Linked DNA regions of Homo sapiens: region 2 is linked to region 1. The links come from fine-mapping of genetic effects on gene expression. A gene starts in region 1. The other region holds a variant in brackets. All regions are shown on one strand. Distances are from middle to middle. Region 1 holds the start of TMEM44-AS1 (TMEM44 antisense RNA 1). Region 2 overlaps TMEM44 (transmembrane protein 44).

The links. PIP is the estimated chance that this variant, and not a neighbour inherited with it, causes the effect.
Region 2: its variant is the best candidate, but not a certain one, in a credible set for the expression of TMEM44-AS1 in testis (GTEx, PIP 0.57).

What each region holds. Positions count from the first base shown.
Region 1 is chr3:194,582,214-194,586,600 of GRCh38, reverse strand. It overlaps TMEM44-AS1 (TMEM44 antisense RNA 1), which reads right to left and starts at 2,333. Exons shown (of 3, transcript NR_047575.1): 1 at 2,153-2,333. RefSeq lists enhancers at 2,317-2,366, 2,402-3,067 and a silencer at 2,557-2,816.
Region 2 is chr3:194,613,984-194,618,370 of GRCh38, reverse strand. TMEM44 (transmembrane protein 44) reads left to right here. Exons shown (of 10, transcript NM_001011655.3): 6 at 1,102-1,272; 7 at 2,674-2,802. Among named protein-coding and RNA genes, the nearest start is that of TMEM44-AS2, 17 kb to the left of the region's middle. RefSeq lists an enhancer at 517-811. The variant T/G (reference allele first, on the strand shown) is at 2,453.

The DNA of each region.
Region 1 (4,387 bases):
ATCTCTACTAAAAGTACAAAAAATTAGCCAAGTGTGGCGGCCCGCACCTGTAGTCCCAGCTACTCAGGAGGCTGAGGCACAAGAATTGCTTGAACCCACGGGGTGGAGGTTGCAGCGAGCTGAGATCGCACTGCTGCACTCCAGGCTGGGCAACATAACAAGACTGTCTCAAAAAACAACAAAAACCTTGCTGACTTTGAGTAACACGAACTACCTAAGGTCCAGATATCATCTATCTCCCTAGATCCTGTTAGCCCAGCCTCCTCCCTTCACAAACTGGTTCCTATCATCACGGTCCCAGCTTGTCTAAGGGTGTCTCCGGCCTCTTCATCCACAGTGAACTACCAAACTGGGAATTTTGGAAGCGAGGTTTGGCTTCATTGTTCAACGAGAATCTTCCTGTATGCAAAGCTCTAGAACACTGGAGCCTTTGTAAGGAGGTGCCAATTAAAATGCCTGTCTCCTAGTAGGAGTGGGCCTCTGTTGCAGCTTTGTTTCTAGCCGTTAGACCAAGAGGGCAGTGGGAGCAACTTGCTCTGATGACCCAGTGAGCAGTGCAGGCACTTTACCTACACTGGGGAGGGGCTGGGGAACAAACTATGTAATCATTGGCTCACTCATCTGGAGACCTGTAGTATCATCTGGTTGTGCCGCCTATCATCTGTGTGGCTTGGAGCATGTCACCTAACCTTTGTGAACTTCTTAGGTAGACTAAGAATAATACCAACCTAGAAAGCCTATGGTGAAGACTAAGTGAACTAACATGTATGAAAATGCAAACATAATACCTATTCAAAGAAGACTTTGGAGAGGGATTAGTTTTCTTTCCCCCCATGCTTCCTGCACACATGTACTGAAAGAGTAACCAAATAATTAGACCTGCAGATGGAAGAGATTTCAGAGGTTTGAATGCCCTTAAACACAACCCCAATTAGTGATTATCCAGTCTCTACTTAAGTTCTCTGAAAAAAAGGATATCAGTTGCCAAGTCTTTATCATTTAGCGAGAGCTCTGCTAAGATGATGATGATGATGATTTTTTTTTTTTTTTTGAGATGGAGTTTCACTCGTTGCCCTGGAGTGCAATGGCACGATCTCACTTCACTGCAACCTCCGCCTCCCAGGTTCAAGCGATTCTCCTGCCTCAGCCTCCCGAGTAGCTGGGATTACAGGCTCCCGCCACCATGCCTGGCTAATTTTTGTATTTTTAGTAGAGACGCTGTTGGCCAGCCTGATCTGGAACTCCTGACCTCAGGTGATCCACCTGCCTCAGCCTCCCAAAGCGCTGGGATTACACGAATGAGCCACCGCACCCAGCTAAAGATTTTCTTGAAAGCCTGTCTAGATCCTGAAGAACTAATCCCCTTATCTCCCTCCCTCAGTATGATGAAGAGATTTATGAGCATCATTTGAAGACACATTCATATTATGTTTCTTTCAAAGGGGTATGAGCTCCTAGAATAAGAAGAGGCACTGGGCCAAGGAGCATGGCTGGGCTCCAGTTCCCAGGTCTGATTCAGTGTGATCTTTGTCATTTCCTTTTCTATGTCACAGTTTCCTCATCTGTAAACTGAAAGTTGGGCCTGATTTTTTTCATTTTTTCTCTTTTATGCATGTGCCAATTTGTTTCCCACAGAATACTGACATCTTTATAAGCTCTCAAGAAAGACATTATAAAAACAAATTTCAGATATACTTTGAACATAGGCTTCATTATACGACATATACCTCTTTCTGTTTGGATTTTACTGTCCACTTAATATAAAAACCTGTATTAATCACTAAGGAAAAGGATAGAGGAGACTTAGAAATATCTCCAGAATAATTTTGCAACAATTCCAAGATTCTCTGCACTTCTTTTTCTGTCCCTTAATTGGCCTCCTCCACATTTTCCAACTATGGAGGTATTGCTCTACTCTCTTCGACTTTACATTGTTTTAGAATGCTTTTGCAAGGAGACTCTGCCTTGAATGAACCCAAGATATGGTGCAATGTTGAGGAAGATCTCCAAGTTTACACATGCCTGTACGATGGCCCAAAGGTCATCATCAGGTGAAAGGGACGACCTTAGAGATGAAAGAAGTTCAAGGAATGGTGCTACATTAAATGACTTAGCATTAGAAAGCATCTACTTTGCTTTTTCTTTCACCAACCCTGAAAGCCAAATAAGGCACTGGGCATTCAGGCCTTCTTTTGAGCAGAACACGTGATTACGCAGTTATTCTTCAAGAGCCTCTGTTAATCTGTCGCTTGGAGAACTCTGCATACTGTCCCAAATCCGTCTGAATTTTCCATCGGCTGCCAGTGTTCGTAGCAGAGGCCTCGGGTCTTCTCGTCCTCTCCTCAGGGTCTGGCAGCTGTCACTACCGTGGACTTCGGTCCAGTCCCCAGAGTCGGGGGCGCTGCCTTTCCCATTTCAGTTGCCAGGGGGTTCATCCACGATCGTGCCAGAGGGGCAGCGCGTGGTCTCCTCGAACTACGGGGGAGAGAGGAACCACTGTTGGCACGGGCCGGACTGAACGCCGGCTCCCACTGCCTACCTCCTCGGAGCTGCATCCGCCGACATCTTGCGCCCTACTCCCAGCACCAGCAGGGCACTTCCGGGAAGAACGGAATTGCGGTTCCGCGCGTGCGCACTCCGCAGCCACCGCCTCCCGCGAGGAGCGAGAGTCCCGCGGCCCCGCCCCGCCGCCGCAGCCGCCGCCGCAGCCGAAGGCCGGCGTTTCTGACCTCAGCCAGCGGCGACGCAGCCGGGAAAGAACTGTCGAGGGCGTCTCCGTAGTTCAGTTTTGGTTTGTTTATTTGAGACGGAGTCTCTGTCGCCCAGGCTGGAATGCAGTGGCGCGGTCTCTGCTGACTGCAGCCTCCGCCTGCCGAATTCAAGCGATTCTTCTGCGACTGAATAGCTGGGACTACAGGGGCGCGCCACGACGCCCGGCTAATTTTTGTATTTTTAGTGGAGACGGAGTTTCACCATGTTGGTCAGGCTGGTCTCGAACTCCTGACCTCGTGATCCGCCCGCCTCGGCCTCCCAAAGTGCTGGGATTACAGGCGTGAGCCACCACGCCTGGCCCACCCCACTCGGTTTTTAAGGAGATAATTACAAGGTTATTTTACGGTTCATAGTGTGTTTCAGACCTCCCAGAAGCCTAACGGTGTATTATAAACCATTCTTTTCTTTGTTTTTAAATGCATTAAAAACCTTTTTTGAGATAAAAATAGTGCAAGTACATGGTTTAAAAAAAGAAAATCAGATTGCACCAAAAGGTTTATGATGAAAAACAATAATGTTCTGTCCCTTTGCCTCCAAGAGACTCCTTTTTAAAATCTTTTGGGCTGGGCGCGGTGGCTCACGCCTGTAATCCCAACACTTTGGGAGGGTGAGGCGGGCGGATCATCTGAGGTCAGGAGTTTGAGATCAGTCTGGCCAACATGGTGAAACCCCGTCCCTACCAAAAATACAAAAAGTAGCCGGGCGTGGTGGTGGGCGCCTGTAGTCTCAGCTACTTGGGAGGCTGAGGCAGGAGAATCGTTTGAACCGGCGAGGCAGAGGCTGCAGTGAGCTGAGACCGCGCCACTGCACTCCAGCCTAGGCAACAGGAGCAAAATTCTGTCTCAAAAAAAAAAAAAACTTTTATACCTTCTAGTAGTTGTCTCCATTAGGTTTGATTTGGAACATGCTTTCCAGCTACAGGGTTCTTAAGATCATACTTGCTTTTCCTGAGCTGCATCATCTTCAGCTTCCATTATACAGGCTGACGAGGCTCAGTAGCACGGCAGGGCCACTGGCGTATTGAGAAATGGATGGTCACCGTCTTCGCATCCGAGGGTTGTGTGGCGTGCCTCGCGCCAGGAACTCCTTGGCCACTCCGCAGTTTCCTAGCTAGAACCCGGCTTCTGAGCCCAGCACGCTCCAACAGCAGCCTGCCGCGGTCCACGCCTCTGCTCCGGACTTGACCTTTCCCTTCCGGCCTTCCTCCTACAGGTGTCTTGGCACCTGGAATCTCCAGAGGAAATCTGAGGGATTCTCTAAACCCACAGCTGGAACAAGGGACGTCATACACGGCGGCCACCACCATCTTTCCCAAGGACAGCATGGCCATGGATGAAAAGGGCCATTTCATGGGCCTTACCTTCTGCTAGCCAGTATAGCCTAAAGCCCTGATACTCAAATGTAGACTCTTAGGCTCCACCCGGAGGATTCCCTAGGTCTGGGCAGGGCTTGGGAAGCTTAGCAGGCTCCTCAGGTGATTCTGCTACAGATGGTCCAGGACCAGTCTCTGAAAAACACTGTCCTCGGGAAATTGCTTTTATGTATTTACTTTTTCCATCTCTTCTTGGTATTTTGTTATCATTTTCAAATACAGAGACGGAGTCTCACTATGATG
Region 2 (4,387 bases), 32 kb before region 1:
GTGTATATACATATTCATATATATAGTGACTTTCTGTATATAAAGGCTGCTTACATAGAAATATAAATAGTGCATATTTCCTTTTATTGAACCAATAGTTTTATTACATATTCTCCAGAAATGTCCTCTTGGCTTTAAAATTTCCAGAATATCATCTCTCATTTTTCGGATCTTCCCCATGTGACCTGGGTCAGAATCGGGGTCCCAGGGAGAGAAGGGCCGGGCCTCAGCTCTTCTGATCCGGTCTCTGTGTTAGGCTGTTCTTGCATTGCTCTAAAGGAATGCCTCAGGCCGGGTCACTCATAAGGAAACCAGGTGTAATTGGCTCACGGTTTGGCAGGCTCCCAAGCATGACGCCAGCATCTGCTGGGCTTCTGGGGAGGCCTCAGGGACCTTTTACTCATGGCGGAAGGCAAAGTGTGAGCAGGCAGAGAGAGAGAGAGTGCAAGAGGGTGGAAGGGAAGGTGCCACACACACATTTTTGAACAGCCAGATCTCAGGAGAACTCACTCACTGTCGTGAGGACAGCACCCAGGGTATGGTGCCAGACCATTCATGAGATATCCACCCCATGACCCAACCACCTCCCACCAGGCCCCACCTCCGACACTGGGGATTACGACTCAACATGAGATCTGGCGGGGACAAATGTCCAAACCATCCCAGTCTCCCTCACGTTCTCCCAGCGGACATTGGCGAGCCGCTGCCCAGCGTCAGGTGCTGGGCACTGAGATGGTGAGGACCCCTGCCCAGCCCTCAGGAGCTCTCTGACTGTGTAAAGAGCTGAGTCATGATCAATCAAAGGTACTCCGCTGGAGGGATGCGTTAGGGCCCAGAAAAGGGAGTTGCTTGCTCGCCTTAGGGTGGAGTTGGTAAGGGGAGGTTTCCCAGAGTTAAGTTGAAGCCAGGTTCTGAGGGATGAGTAGGAGTTTGACAGGCAGAAGAAGCAACTCGAGCAAAAGCTGTAAGTCTAACAGAAGCATTGCCCTGGAGGACTGGCTGCAGGCAGAGGGCTTGCCCCGCAACCTGCTGTGCCACTGAGGGCCCTGGGTCTTGTGATCTGCTGCTTCTCCCGCCCAGCCCCTCCCTCTCTCTGCCCAGTGCCGGGGGAAGACATTTCCCTCCATCCACCTGTGGACCCGGCTCCTGTCGGCCCTGGCTGGCCTCCTCTATGCCTCGGCCATTGTGGCCCACGACCAGCACCCTGAGTACCTGCTGCGGGCCACACCCTGGTTCCTGACCTCCCTCGGCCGTGCGGCACTGGACCTCGCTGTATCCACCCCAGGCCTGGGGAGCTCCCTGCTTGCAGCCAGAGGAGGCCTGTGTCTCGTCCTCTCACTGCCCCTGCCCCACCCTTCTTTTCTCTTGCTAGATGGAACTCTCCCAGCAGTAAGGGAGTGGTTTGAAGCTTGGGGCAGGCAAACACAAATGCAATTATTTGTAGTTTTATGTTTCCTTTTTTTGTTTGTTTGTTTTGAGATGGAGTCTCGCTGTGTTGCCCAGGCTGGAGTGCAGTGGCGTGATCTTGGCTCACTGCAACCTTCACCTCCCAATTTCAAGCAATTCTCCTGCCTCAGCCTCCCGAGTAGCTGGGACTACAGGTGCATGCCAACACGTCTGGCTAATTTTTGTTATTTTTAGTGGAGACTAAAAATGTTTGTATTTTTAGATGCTGACTGTGGTTAATGGCTGTGGCGTGTTGGTGGTGGGGTGTGTGTGAAGGCAAGGCAGGGCCACGCCGTCTGCAGGCGCTAAGAGGGGAATCTTCGCTTGCCTCTTCCAGCTGCCAGTGGAGCTGCAGGAGCTGCTAGTGGCTCCTGGTGTCCCTTGATGCATGGCAGTGTCGTTTACATTTCTGCCTTGCCCTTCATGTGGCCTTCTTCCCTTTGTGTATCTTCGTGTGTCTCCTTTTCTTATAGGGACCCCAGCTGTTGGAGTTAGGGCCCAGTCCAATCCACTATGACTTCATTGTCTAATTGTATCAGCAAGGACCCTACTTCCGAATAAGGTCACAGTCTGGGCCGGGCACGGTGGCTCACGACTGTAATCCCAGCACTTTGGGAGGCCAAGATGGGAGGATCATCTGAGATCAGGAGTTTGAGACCAGCCTGGCCAACATGGTGAAACCCGGTCTCTACTAAAAATACGAAAATTACCCGAGCATGATGGCAGGTGCCCGTAATCCCAGCTACTTGGGAGGCTGAGGCGAGAGAATCGCTTGAACCAGGGAGGCAGGGGTTGCAGTGAGCTAAGATCATACCACCGCACTCCAGCCTGGGTGACAGAGCGAGACTCTGTCTCAAAAAAAAAAAGGGGGTCACATTCAGAGGTGGATCTGAATTTTGAGGGACACTATTCAACCCACTGCATGTATTGTCACTGTAAGCCAGGCCTGTCAAGAAAGACGTTTTCCAAAATGCTTTAGTTTTGCAAATATTTACCATGTCCTTGT[T/G]AGGGACAGGGTCACATTGGATGCTGGGCCCTCGTGAGGACAGGAACATCCACCCTAGCCCTGTCTTCAGATGAGCTCCTCTCTGTCCCAGGCAGGATAATACAGGGGAGGGAGGAGAGTAGGTGAGTGGGGAGGGGGGTGGCAGCATGGTGTGGAGGGGTGAAGGGCCACGCTAGGCAGCTGGAATATTCTGCTTCCTACCTTAACTTACACCATCTCAGATTATTTTCCTTTCGTGTGTGATGAAGAGCAAGATGAGACAGGCCTTAGGATTTGCCAAGGAAGCCAGAGAGAGCCCTGACACCCAAGCCCTTTTGACCTGTGCAGAGAAAGAGGAAGAAAACCAGGAGGTGAGGAACGAGGACAAGGTCTCTCTGGCTGGAAAACTCTGGTCCCAGCAACAGTATCTTGAGAAACAGCAGGATACTGCGGACGGACGTGTGAAAGCTGCCTGCCGAGTGTTCTCTGCAGGCGACTCAGACAGCTGTCCTGTCTCGCTGAGGGAATAGTGGCCAAACCTAACACATGACATGTAACGGGCCCTTCCTGTTTACTGGCATGGAGTGGACGGGGCATTGAGCCTCCATGAGGGCCGGGGCTTGGGAATTCCAGAAGTCCCTCCCTGCTTGCCCAGTTGGTCGCTTTATTTTTATTTTTTTTTAATCTATTGATTGATTGAGATGGAGTCTTGCTCTGTTGCCCAGGCTGGAGTGCAGTAGCACAATCTCAGCTCACTGCAACCTCCGCCTCCCAGATTCAAGTAATTCTCCTGCCTCAGCCACCCAAGTAGCTGGGATTACAGGCACATGTCACCACGCCCGGCTAATATTTTGTATTTTTAGTAGAGACAGATGGGGTTTCACCATGTTGGCCAGGCTGGTCTCGAACTCCTGACCTCAGGTGATCTGCCCACCTTGGCCTCCCAAAGTGCTGGGATTACAGGCATAAGCCGTGGTGCGTAGCCCAGTTGGTCACTTTAAAAAGCTACTGTCTATGTTCAAAGCTAAGGGAAGCCTGAATGCCATAGGATCCTCCGGTTTCGCAATTATACAAATGTTTTGAAGTTTTTTGGTCACTTAATGGCTTATATTTTTAGCAATGTAGATGGAATAGTCGCATGCCCACTTGAAGCTTTTGAATAATTTACTTACTGGTAGTTAAGTTCACATGCTACATACCTTAATATATTCATTTTTAAATAATGTGATTTTTGGCCGGGTGCAGTGGCTCATGCCTGTAATCCCAGCACTTTGGGTGGCCAAGGCAGGCAGATTGCTTGAGCTCAGGAGCTCAAGACTAGCCTGGGCAACAGGGTGAAACCCCGTCTCTACCAAAAATACAAAAAAAATTGGCCGGGTATGGTGGTGTGTGCCTGTAGTCCCAGCTACTTAGGAGGCTGAGGCAGGAGGATCTCTTGATCCTGGAGGCAGAGGTTGCAGTGAGCCAAGATGGCGCCACCGCACTACAACCTGAGCTGCAGAGTGAGACCCCATCTCAAAAACATAAGTAAATTATGTGATTTTCACTCATATTTCTTCAAAAACTGTATTCCCACTTTCACATGCATCTTTAATATCCACATCATTACCACCACCTAACACGGTGCTCCAGAGCCTGTCGTCATGCCCAGCTACATGATCCAGCCTTTGGAAATCGGCTTGTGATGCTGCCTCTAGAAAGTCCTCTCAAGCCACGAGGACCCATTTGCTGTTTGTGGTCACTGCAATGTAACTACTTACTCTATTCCTTGTGGTTTTTTTGGTTTTTTGTTTTGTTTTGTTTTATTTTGTTTTTTGGAGACGGAGTTTTGCTCTTGTTGCCGAGGCTGGAGTGCCGTGGCACGATCTCGGCTCACCACAACCTCCGCCTCCCGGGTTCAAGCGATTCTCCTGCCTCAGCCTCCCAAGTAGCTGGGATTACAGGCATGCACCACCA